Regions from separate parts of the Homo sapiens genome. Here region 1 is linked to region 2. The links come from fine-mapping of genetic effects on gene expression. A gene starts in region 2. The other region holds a variant in brackets. All regions are shown on one strand. Distances are from middle to middle.

Region 1 (5,371 bases), 28 kb before region 2:
TGTAACTTCCAGAATCATTCTTTCTGCATCTTGACACCATTTTTAAAGAAATTTGTTATCCAAGACTGTTAAATCATAAATAAAACTCATCTTATTCAGATAAAGAAAGTCAAAGTTATGTCGGGAAGGGGAAGGGAAAAAAGAAAAACCTTCCTGGGGCTGGAAGGGTTTTGTCACTTCCCAAAAGTGAGGGGATGCCGAGTCATCACCCGCTGCCAGTCTTCAAGAAAAAGGCACCTGGAGCTTGAGTTTGGAAGCCGAAGAACAGAGTTCAGCTTCAATAAGCTTATAAAGACGAGAGAGACTTTCCAGCCACTTGCAGATTTTAAAGGAGAAAGGAGAGTGCAAAGGGCAGAACATGAAAAGTTCGCTACTCAAACATACCTGTACGCACCAGACCATTGAAATTTGGGTTCATTTGGTTTCTCAGAAAGGTATCATATTCCTGAACCTTGAAAACATAATTGCAAGTGAAAGAAGCCAGTCAGAGAAGGCCACATATTGTACAATTCCATTTGTATGAAATATCCAGCACTGGCAAATCCATAGAGACAGAAAATAGATTAGGGATTTCCTGGGGCTCAGGGGAGGGGGGATAGGGAGTGACTCCTTAGTGAGTACAGGGTTTCCTTTGGGGATGAAGAAAATGTTCTAGAATTAGATCGTGGCGATGGTTGCACAACATTGTGAGTATGCTGAAAGCCACTGAATTGTGCACTTTAAAAAGATTAAAATGATATGTTTTATGTTATGTGTAAAATACACATAACATAAATTATGTGTAAAATATGTAGTAAAATAAACCTACAAAAATGTATTGTACCCAAAGCTTTGGTCATTGTTGAATAGTTTTACCTGTTCACATGAAATATTTTTCACGACATTAAGTTATTTATGCTCATATCTGAACCCAACTAGGACCCTTAATGTTTATGGCCTTCGGCCAGCAAACTCCTAGTCCTGCCTAGGGGTAGACTCTTTGAATATCTTGCAGGGGGCAGGGATAGAAGATGAAAACTAAAGTCATAGAACCCAGATATAAGCATCTGAGAAAGGACGGTGCTGTGACACAGAGTTTAAGGACAGATTTGGAGACTGAGAATGTTATCAAGACAGTACGGTGTCTGTACAGATTAAGAGCGTGGGCCATGCAGTCAGACAGACCAGAGTTCAAATCCCAGCTCTACCTCTTGCATCCATGAAACCCTAGACAAGTCACTTTACCTCTCTGAAGCCTCAGTTTCCTTATCTGTAAAATGGGATGGGTAAGAATTAGAACAATGCACATGGAGTGCTTAGCCCAGTACCCGTGGCTTAGTAAATACTGGGGTTACTGCAGAGAAAGTTGAACACGGCCCCAGCCCTACCCCTTTGTCCTTCAACTAGGACTGCTCTCTTGATCTCAGTCTGCATGATTATTTATTAATCAGAAAGATACAAGAGTTACTACATCTCAAGATACCATTCTGTGTGCTTTACAAATATTAATTCATTCCATCCTCATAGCAGCCCTATTGAGGCAGATGCTTATTATACTCCATCCCCATTTTACAAATGTGCAAAATGGAACACAGAGGGGTTAGGTAATTTGCCCAAGGTCACCCATCCAGTAATGGCAAAGCCAGGATTTGAGCCCCATCTGGGTCCAGGGCCCATGTCATTAATGAGTACACAAGTAAGAGTTTGTTTGAGGAAAGGGTTTCGCTGCTTTTTAAGAGGATGCAAAACTGTTACCCTAAGGCTGACCTTCCAGGAACCGAGTGCCAAAGGCAAGGTCTGTCACTTACACTTTTTTGGGGCTCCTTTGCTTCTAGGGAGCACTTGGCAGGAGAAAGTATCTGGCGTCCGAAGCCAGATGCAGAAGCATCAAAAGGTCCCGACTGCCGTCCTTCTGTCGGCGCTTGAGGAGACGGCCTGTGAGTGTGGATTTGCAGACATGGGTGGGCGCCTGGGTCTCCCCAATGCCCCAAGCCTCCCGGGCCCTGCAGCACAGAGCTAGCTCTTCCCCAAATAACCATGTGCCCACCAATTCTTGAGAACTCCATGGCCACAGCCCGTGGGAACCAAGAAGGGTAAGGGGGCAGGAGCTCATGGCTTCAGAAAAAGGACAAAAGGTAGCCCTGAGCAAGCTGGGACCAGCCCACAGGCCACCAGAGGAACGAACTGACTATGGCAGCAAAGTGCTTCTGTCCCACTAAGGGGAGGAGGACCAGGAAATGCCTCCCAACAACTTAGCCACTACCCCAGGGCACTCACACTCCCAGCTTTAGCACCCAGTGGGACTCTACTCTTTCCGACATGGCTCAGGACTTCTTGTCTGATCCCTATGGCTGGGCTTCAGATATTCCAGGGACCCACTGGAACTGTGTGCTGACTGCTAAGTATCTGCATTTTTCTGGGGGGAAAAGATCCATAACTCTCAACAGCATCTCAAAGACGCCCACTCCCCCACCCCCCCCCCCCGGCAAAAAGATTGAGTAACATGCAGAGGTAGATGAT[A/G]CAAGCATGCTGTTGGTAATCTTTGGAGGCCAAAGGAAACAGTGGGGCAAAAGTGTCAGAAATGCTTGCCTCTGGCCGGGTGCGGTGACTCACGCCTGTAATCCCAGCACTTTGGGAGGCCAAGGTGGGCGGATCACCTGAAGTCAGGAGTTCAAGACCAGCCTGACCAACATGTTGAAACGCCGTCTCTACTAAAAATACAAAAATTAGCTGGGCATGGTGGCAGGCATCTGCAAACCCAGCTACCTGGGAGGCTGAGGCAGGAGACTTGCTTGAACCTGCGAGGTGGAGATTGCAGTGAGATCTTGCCACTGCACTCCAGCCTGGGTGACAGAGCAAGATACTGTCAAAAAAGAAAGAAAAGAAAGAAAAAGAAAGAAAGGAAGAAAGAAAGAAAGAAAGAAAGAAAGAAAGAAAGAAAGAAAGAAAGAAAGAAAGAAAGAAAGGAAGGAAGGAAGGAAGGAAGGAAGGAAGGAAGGAAGGAAGGAAGGGAGGAAGGAAAGAAGGAAGGAAGGAAAGGAAAAAAAGAGGAAAAGAAAAGCTTGCCTCAGGCAGATCAGCATTAAATATTCCTTGTCAATTCTCTTCCCAGGGCTCTTCAACCTTCGAGCCAGTGACATCCCCTATAACCCCTTCTTCTATTCCTACACGCTGCTCACAGACTCTTCTATTAGGTATGGCTTTTCCTTAGCTTGCTGTTGTGGACTTTCTCCAACTTCCACCCTCTTGATGCCCCACCACTGATCCCGCCTTAATATACAGCCCTCTGGCTGCCCATCAGCTCGGCGCCTGCTGCAGCACGACCCTTTAGAAAACCCCCTGTTGTCTTTTCCTGACTCTTTAAACCTCTGTCCCTATTGAATCCCAAATCTGGCCTGCTTGGCTCCCTGGGGCTGGCTTCCTTTGACCTCCAGGAACAGAGGGACTGTGACTGCCTCTGGTCCTTTGCATCCTTAGCAGATGCTCAGGACCCTCCTTGTCTTCCCACCCCACCCAGGTTGTTTGCAAACAAGAGTCGCTTTAGCTCCGAAACCTTGAGCTATCTGAACTCCAGTTGCACAGGCCCCATGTGTGTGCAAATCGAGGATTACAGCCAAGTTCGTGACAGCATCCAGGCCTACTCATTGGGAGATGTGAGGATCTGGATTGGGACCAGCTATACCATGTATGGGATCTATGAAATGATACCCAAGGTGGGTTTGCCAGGCCCCAGCCCAAGCCAGGCACCAATCCCCACTCTAGGCCTGAGAAGTCTTAACCTAAAGTGAGGTGAAGCCCCTCAGCCATTCAGTCATCTGGTCAGCCAACAACTGTGCAGTGAGTTCCCTTCTTGGCCTAACTGGGAAGAGCCAGAAGAGGAAACAGGGATGGCCATCCAGAGAGCTCATAAAATTGTCAGGAGGCTGGAGAGTATACGGCCTGATCTAGCAGAGACTTTGGAGTCAGCCAAACTTGAAAATGAATTCCAGCTCTGTCCCTAACTAGCTGTGCAGTGACTTTGGACAAGCAACTTAGCCAATCTGGGTCTTTTTCTTCACCTATAAAATGGCAATAAGAGTCCTGACCTCGCAGGAGTCGCTCAGTGGAGATCTAAAGGAGATAGTGTATATGACTGACACATGGTAGTGTCCAATAAATGGTAGCTGTCATGATATGTACAGGAAACTTACACTGTCAGGACAGCCTGTCGAGTGACTCAGGCCAGACTCTGATCCATCCCAGAGTGCTGGTGGGATCCGAAGACAGGGAGTTCATTGCCAAGCAAGGCAGTGTCAATCAAGGAAGCCTTCCTGGAAGGAGAGAGGGTTCAGCTGGACGTGGAAAACTAGGAAAGACAGAAAGCACACACAGAGTAGAGAGCATTGCCACGAAATGGTGGCAAATCTCACGTCTGCTGGGTCCTCCTGCCAGTCCTCTGAAAACACCCCTGTGCCATGGAGACCTCCTTTACTGTGCCCCCAGACCTGTGCCCCCAGACCTCCTTTTCTCCTCCCTGCCCCCAACAGGAGAAACTCGTGACAGACACCTACTCCCCAGTGATGATGACCAAGGCAGTGAAGAACAGCAAGGAGCAGGCCCTCCTCAAGGCCAGCCACGTAAGTCCACGTTCAGGCAGACATGGCCTTTTGGGAGTATCCAGCCTAATGAGTTAGAAAGGAAAGGCCTCCAGAAGAGCCTGAAGAAGACCCTCAATGAAACAAAGAAGCAAGCTGGGCGCGGTGGCTCACGCCTGTAATCCTAGCACTTTGGGAGGCCAAGGTGAGAGGATTGCTTGAGCTCAGGAGTCCGAGAGCAGCCTGGCCAACATGGTGAAGCCCTGTCTCTACTAAAAATACAAAAATTAGCCAGGCGTGGTGGCGATCACCTGTAGTCCCAGCTACTCAGGAGGCTGAGGCACGAGAATCGCTTGAACCTGGGAAGTAGAGGTTGCAATGAGCTGAGATCATGCCACTGCACTCCAGCCTGGGCGAGACTAGGTCAAAAAAAAAGAAAGAAAGAAAGAAAAAGAAATAAAGAAGCAGACACCAAATTATTCCTGGGCGCCCACATGCACCTCATATCCTTGCCCCCAATATAGTACAGTGGTTTAGAGCACAGGCCCTGGAGCTAGGGTGCCTTGAGTTCAAACCACAGCTCCACCCAATTCCTAACTGGGTGACCTTGACCAAGTCATTTTACCTCTCTGGGCCTCAGTTACCCCATCTGTAAAATGAGGATCATAACAGTAATCTTACAGCATATGGTTGTTGTGAGAATTCAATGAATATGTATATTGCTCTGAGCACCACCTAGCACATTCTAAGTGTTAAATAAGTGTTAGCTATAATGATTTCCTCACACTGGCAAGAGGATGGCTCAATTTTTAAAAAAG
Region 2 (5,371 bases):
TTTAAGGTGACCTTGTTCCCTGAACTACTGACTCGTATCACTTCCTTAGCTGAGAGCTCTGCGTACCTCAAACAACATAACCTGTAAAATGCAAATATGTTACCCAGAAGGGAAAATCTATTAAACACATGTTTAAGGGTCATTAGCCAGCAAGGACCTGGCCTATTGGGATTCAGCCAGGGCAATCTGTTGGAAGAGAAAAGCTGGGGGAAGGCAAGTCCCGATGGGGGGTCCTGGACACCCCGCCTCCACTGGCCCCGGTCCCCAGGTGGCGGGGAGGAGGTGTTCCTGAACAGAGGAGACAGATCTGAAAAGGAGAACGAAGGAAGCCGTTGAAAACACTTGCTCCCTTCTGTCCTGGGAGCTGGTCACCTCTCCATATTTCTCTCCAAGGCACCCTCACCTCCCTCTCGCTGCCTTTTCCCAAGCCTCGCCAGCCCTGTGCCCTGGTTTGCTGGCCGCCTTTGAAGGTTCTGCGGTTAGTGTGTGATCTTCTGTCGCTGCCGGCGCTGAGCAAACAGGAAGCGGGCACATCCTGCGAGGCGGCCAGGGACGCAGCCGCTGCGCAGGCCCGGAAGATTCTGCGACCTGCTTCCTCCCTCACGGCTCTGGCTCCAGGTGCCCCAGGCCACTACAGCGGCGTCCCCAATCCCAGAACCCTCTGGGGCTGCCCTCCTGCTCCTGGTCACGCAGAGCCCCAAAGGCCCGATGGGTCCCCTACACGGCTGCCAGGCTACTGTATATGCCGAAAAGCCTTAACCAGTTACCGCGCTTGCTAGTGACCCTGGGCCGCCTGGGAGGGACTTTCAGGGTGGAAAACACAGGCCAGTGGGAAGGAGATCTGGGGTGTGGAATCTTTTCATGAGTCTGCCTGGCCGACTGAGTAGGCCAAAGAATGTATGGTTTCAGCTTAGGGAAGAAAGATCTTATCTTCCCTGAGCTCACCCTGAAGGTTGGATGGTCAGAGGGCATAAAGCAGAATCGGAGAGGAAGTCACGAGAACATCTTGGGAACAGGGGTGGACAAGCCTAGTATTTCACAAGTACCACAGAATTGAAAGCCTTAAAAATGTGCATACCTTTGACCCCAGCAATTCCTCTTCTGGATATTTCCCCTACAGAAAAAAAACTATGGATGTGAATATTTACCATAAGTATGTTCAATGAATAATTTAAAAATTTAAGCCAACCCAAGTTCATCAGCAAGGGCTTGGTGAAATAAGCACGGCACATCCACACAATGGGATGTTCCACAGCCGTTATAAATTACGTAGTTGAAGACTATTTCATAGCATGAGACAATCTTGATACTGTGTTCAGCTGGACGTAGTGGCTCACGCCTGTAATCCCAGCACTTTGGGAGGATGAGGCAAAGAGGTCACTTGAGACCAGGAGTTCAAGACCAGCCTGGGCAACATGGTGAAACCCTGTCTCTACAAAAAATACAAAAATTAACCAGGGTGGTGGTACGCACCTATAGTCCCAGCTACTTGGGAGGCAGAGGCACAAGAATTGCTTGAACTCAGGAGGTGGAGGTTGCAGTGAGCCGAGATCACGCCACTGCACTCCAGCCTGGGAGACAGAGTGAGAGACTCCATCTCGAAAAAAAAACAAAAAAGATACTGTGTTTAGTGTGAAAAGCAGACACCAATAGTGTGAATTATGACCTTTTTTAATTAAAAAATTTTAAACAGCTTTATTGAGGTATAATGGAGCTACAATAAACTGCACATATTTGAAGTATACAATTTGATACGTTTTGACATGTGTATTCCCCCATGAAATCATCACCACAGTCAAGATAGTGAACATATTCATCACTCCTAAAAGCTTCCTGTTACCCTGTGTGATGTCTCCCTTCCCTTCTCTCCCCTCCCCTTCTCCCCAAACCAATTATCTGTTTTCTGAGCAGTATGATTTTTGTAAAAAGAAAAAAAATGTTTATAGACAGAGAGTAGATAGATGCTTAAAACAGTGTAGAGGACAATGATGGGAAATTTTGAAATTTTTTTTGTTTATGTGTTTGTGAAATTGTATGACAAATACAAGTTGCTTTTGTAATACCAAGAAGTTATTAAAGTTATTAAAATCTGCCACAGACAACCCACAAATTGAATATACTGCATAGGTGTTTGATAAATGCCTGTTGGATACTTGCTAGAGGTGTGGAGTTGGCTGTAAGTGCTTTTCAGCTGTGGTGGTGATAAATATACTCATGATGGCTGAGGGGTACTGACTGGAGGGGTGACTGCTCTAGTGATGATGGCTTTAGGTGTACTGATGGCTGTAGGAGTGATGGCTGCAGGGCTGATGGCTGCACGGATGTGATGATGGTTGTAGGAGAGATGACTGTAGGGACGATGGTTATAGGGGTGAGAGGGTCATGAGTGCGGTTGGCTGTAATGTCCAGAAGGGTGACAGCTGTAAGGATGATGGCTGGAAGGGTGATAGCAGCAATGGTGATGACTGTAGAGGTGATGGCTGAAGGATGTCAACTGTAGAGGTGATTACCATAGTGACAATGGCTATAGGTGTGCTGATGGCAGCGGGGATGGCTGCAGGCCTGATGGCTGTAGGGGTGATGGCTGTATGGTGATGGCTATTGATAGGAGTGATGGTAGCAGTGGTGATGGTCACAGGGGTGATGGTAGTGGTAGTGATGGCAGTGACGACCTTGAAGACGTGAGTTGACCGGGAGCATTGATCCAACAGGCAGCCAGATGGTCCAACTTCTGGTTTCTGGATTCTGGTCAGTGAGATAAAGGGCTTGGGTACGCCATATAATGTCGAGCTGATTGTCCACCTCTAGGAAGATGGAGCAGAAGGACTGATGATGATCGACATGAGACAACAAGGTAGGGACTTTCTCTGACTGTTCAACCCAAGAGCCGTCTGCATCAGAATCTCTGGAGACTGAAGCTTGGACTTCCTTCCTCCCTAGGGGCCGGCAGGGGCTGCGATTGCTGTAAGAGTAGGTCACGTGGCAGGGCTTCCTGTATGCTGCTGCTGCCGGGTGTCCATGGCCCGCACCCCCAAGCTGCCACTGCAGCAGTCAGAGTGGCAGCTGAAGGCTCGGTTCATGCCGTGCCCCCGGGCAGTTCTGGTGAGGCTAAGCAAGAGGCCTCTGCATCTTGACACCTAGGAGAGCAGGGACGGAGTCTCCCAGGGTGGAGGACCATGCTGCGCCGCAAGCCCTCCAATGCCAGTGAGAAGGAGCCCACTCAGAAGAAAAAGGTGAGGAGCATTTTGGGAACTCACATCTTCCTTTCCTCTGCTTGCTCGACCCATCCCTTCCAAGACTCTTGGAAGTGGGAAGAGCCAAAGGCCATATGTTGAGTCTGTAGGTGAGGGCCACTCACCTAGAAGGCAACGGGACAGGGACCCAAAGGTTAACAGAAGTACAGAAGAGATGTTTAAAATTCTGGAGCAACAGAGTTACAGAATAGATCCTTAGAAATCTAGAGTCATGCAATTCAACCCTAGAAGAATGGGAAAAAAGATCTAAAATTAGGGGCCAGAATCTTAGACTAGAATTTGAGAATAACAAAATACAATGCTTAAGCTGAACCCTAAGCTTGTACTTAACTATCTCTCCTCTACGCTGGTCCTGCTGCCACTTCTGCCCCGGCCACGGCCTCTCAGGAGCCATCTCACTCAAAGGGCCCTGCTGGGCTGCCCAGCTTGGAGCCATGATGCTCACAGGACTGCCACCCCCTCCTCCACTTTGGCCATGGCCCAGACCCTGCCCACTTGGCTCAGCTCTGTGGTAGCTCCCAGGCCCTACCCGAGATGGAGCCAACCTGGAGATGGGGGCCTGAGGCCATTCCAGTCTTGGGGGAAAAGGCATCCGGAAGTGCAGTGGGATGCAGGGGGCATACAGGTTCTTCCTGGGTGGGGAATGAGAAATTAAGTTGAGGTGGTGAGTAGGAGTGAAGGCTGAGGAGGGAGGATTTTAAAGGCCAGGAGGAAAAACAGCTGTCATGGATGGCTGAGGTGTTCATCCCCCTGGGGCAGAGACCGGACTGGAAGAATCCTTGAAGGCTGTGCCAGATCTAGGATTTTGTGGTTGAATTTGAGGATTTCCAGATTTCTTTGGTTGGGTTTGAGGATTTCTAGACCTAATTCTTTAATTCAATTGAAGGATTCTCCCAGACAATCAGCAAGTATATCCTACACATCCAATGGGATGCTAGGACAGTCCCAAAGCAGGCCTGAACTAGGTCCAAGAGGCCCAGGCTATCCCCCGCCAATTTTCCCTGGAACTCAGCCCAGGTGCCCTATGGTGGATCCCCCTTGTCAGGGGAGTAGCTCAGAGATGGAGGCCAAGGCAGCTGAAAGACTGAGACTCGGGGCAGTGGGGTGTGCATCCTGCCCCAGCTCTCAGGTCCTGGGGTGGCTGCCACTTCCGGCTGTATTCTCCCCACCCCAGCTGCTTCTCTAAGGTTGCAGTGGTGGTGGGCGGGGGAGGGGGGAGGTTCATGAATCTTCACACGGGCTCTGTCATCCCCGTCCAAACCCTGCAGGGTGCTAGGCCCAGCAGGACTGCCATTGGCTGCCACTCCTAAGAGAGCAGGGCCACTTCCCCTTGCTCTCTGGCTGGTGGGGGTGGGAAACAGAGATTGCTCTATAGACACTGCTAGGCCTCAAACCACAGGGGCGCTGAGCTGGAGGAAAGTGTGAGAAAGAGCTGACACTTTGACACTGGGACCCTGTGCCACATCAGGAAGACGTACCTAGGGGCACACAGAAGCCAGAAGTCCCCTTTTTCTTTCCCAGCTTCAATTACCCAGATTCTGTGTTCGGCAGGCAAGTGGGCCCCTGGGATTTCCCCAGGTCTCTCCCAGGAGAAGGGGTCCTTTCGGGGAGAGTAGTCCAGGCAAACCCCACCCCAACCCCTGCCAGAGCCGGTGCCAGCCTCCAGAGCTGGGATGAGCTTGCCTCCACACACTCTGCTAGCCCCAGACTATGGAAATGTCCCCCAGAAGCCAAGCTTCCAGAAGGTACAGAGCATCTTCCCCAGGCCCAGAGGCAGCGGGCTGGCTGAATCACTGCTAGTCCCTTCTTCTCAGAGGCTGAGATGACGTGGTGGAGAGGAAAGCACAAAGGCAAGAGAGGCCTCTTTCTCCTGCCCCTGCTTCTCCTCTTGGGCCTGCCAATGGAGAATGTGCCAGACAGGGGGCAAGAAAGCTGAGCTGGAATCCTACCACGCTCTAGCTGTAGGACCTTGGACAGCTCATTGACTTTCTTTGGGCCTCAGTTTCCTCGCCTCTGAAAAGGAGGATAACTCCTAATCTGCCCCCCTCAAGAGGTTGTACAGATCACCCAAAAGAATAGATGTGAGAGTACCCTGTCACAAGTGTGCACGTGCATAC

Alleles and levels. Alleles are on the strand shown, and positions count from the first base shown. SD is a standard deviation of normalised expression in the study named.
For the expression in whole blood of the gene that starts at base 3,028 in region 2, A is the low allele of the variant in region 1 and G is the other (small effect, 0.09 SD a copy in GTEx).

What was found. PIP is the estimated chance that this variant, and not a neighbour inherited with it, causes the effect. A credible set is the group of variants that fine-mapping cannot tell apart.
Region 1: its variant is the best candidate, but not a certain one, in a credible set for the expression of SASH3 in whole blood (GTEx, PIP 0.67).

The regions. Positions count from the first base shown.
Region 1 is chrX:129,748,654-129,754,024 of GRCh38, forward strand. XPNPEP2 (X-prolyl aminopeptidase 2) reads left to right here. Exons shown (of 21, transcript NM_003399.6): 8 at 1,815-1,916; 9 at 3,092-3,173; 10 at 3,497-3,692; 11 at 4,506-4,595. Among named protein-coding and RNA genes, the nearest start is that of XPNPEP2, 12 kb to the left of the region's middle. The variant A/G (reference allele first, on the strand shown) is at 2,500.
Region 2 is chrX:129,776,922-129,782,292 of GRCh38, forward strand. SASH3 (SAM and SH3 domain containing 3) reads left to right here and starts at 3,028. Exons shown (of 8, transcript NM_018990.4): 1 at 3,028-3,233. The coding sequence starts at 3,177. It overlaps LOC124905215 (a long non-coding RNA gene), which reads right to left. Exons shown (of 2, transcript XR_007068328.1): 2 at 1,654-3,358. RefSeq lists enhancers at 2,779-2,938, 3,189-3,268, 3,319-3,378, 4,646-4,825, 4,936-4,985.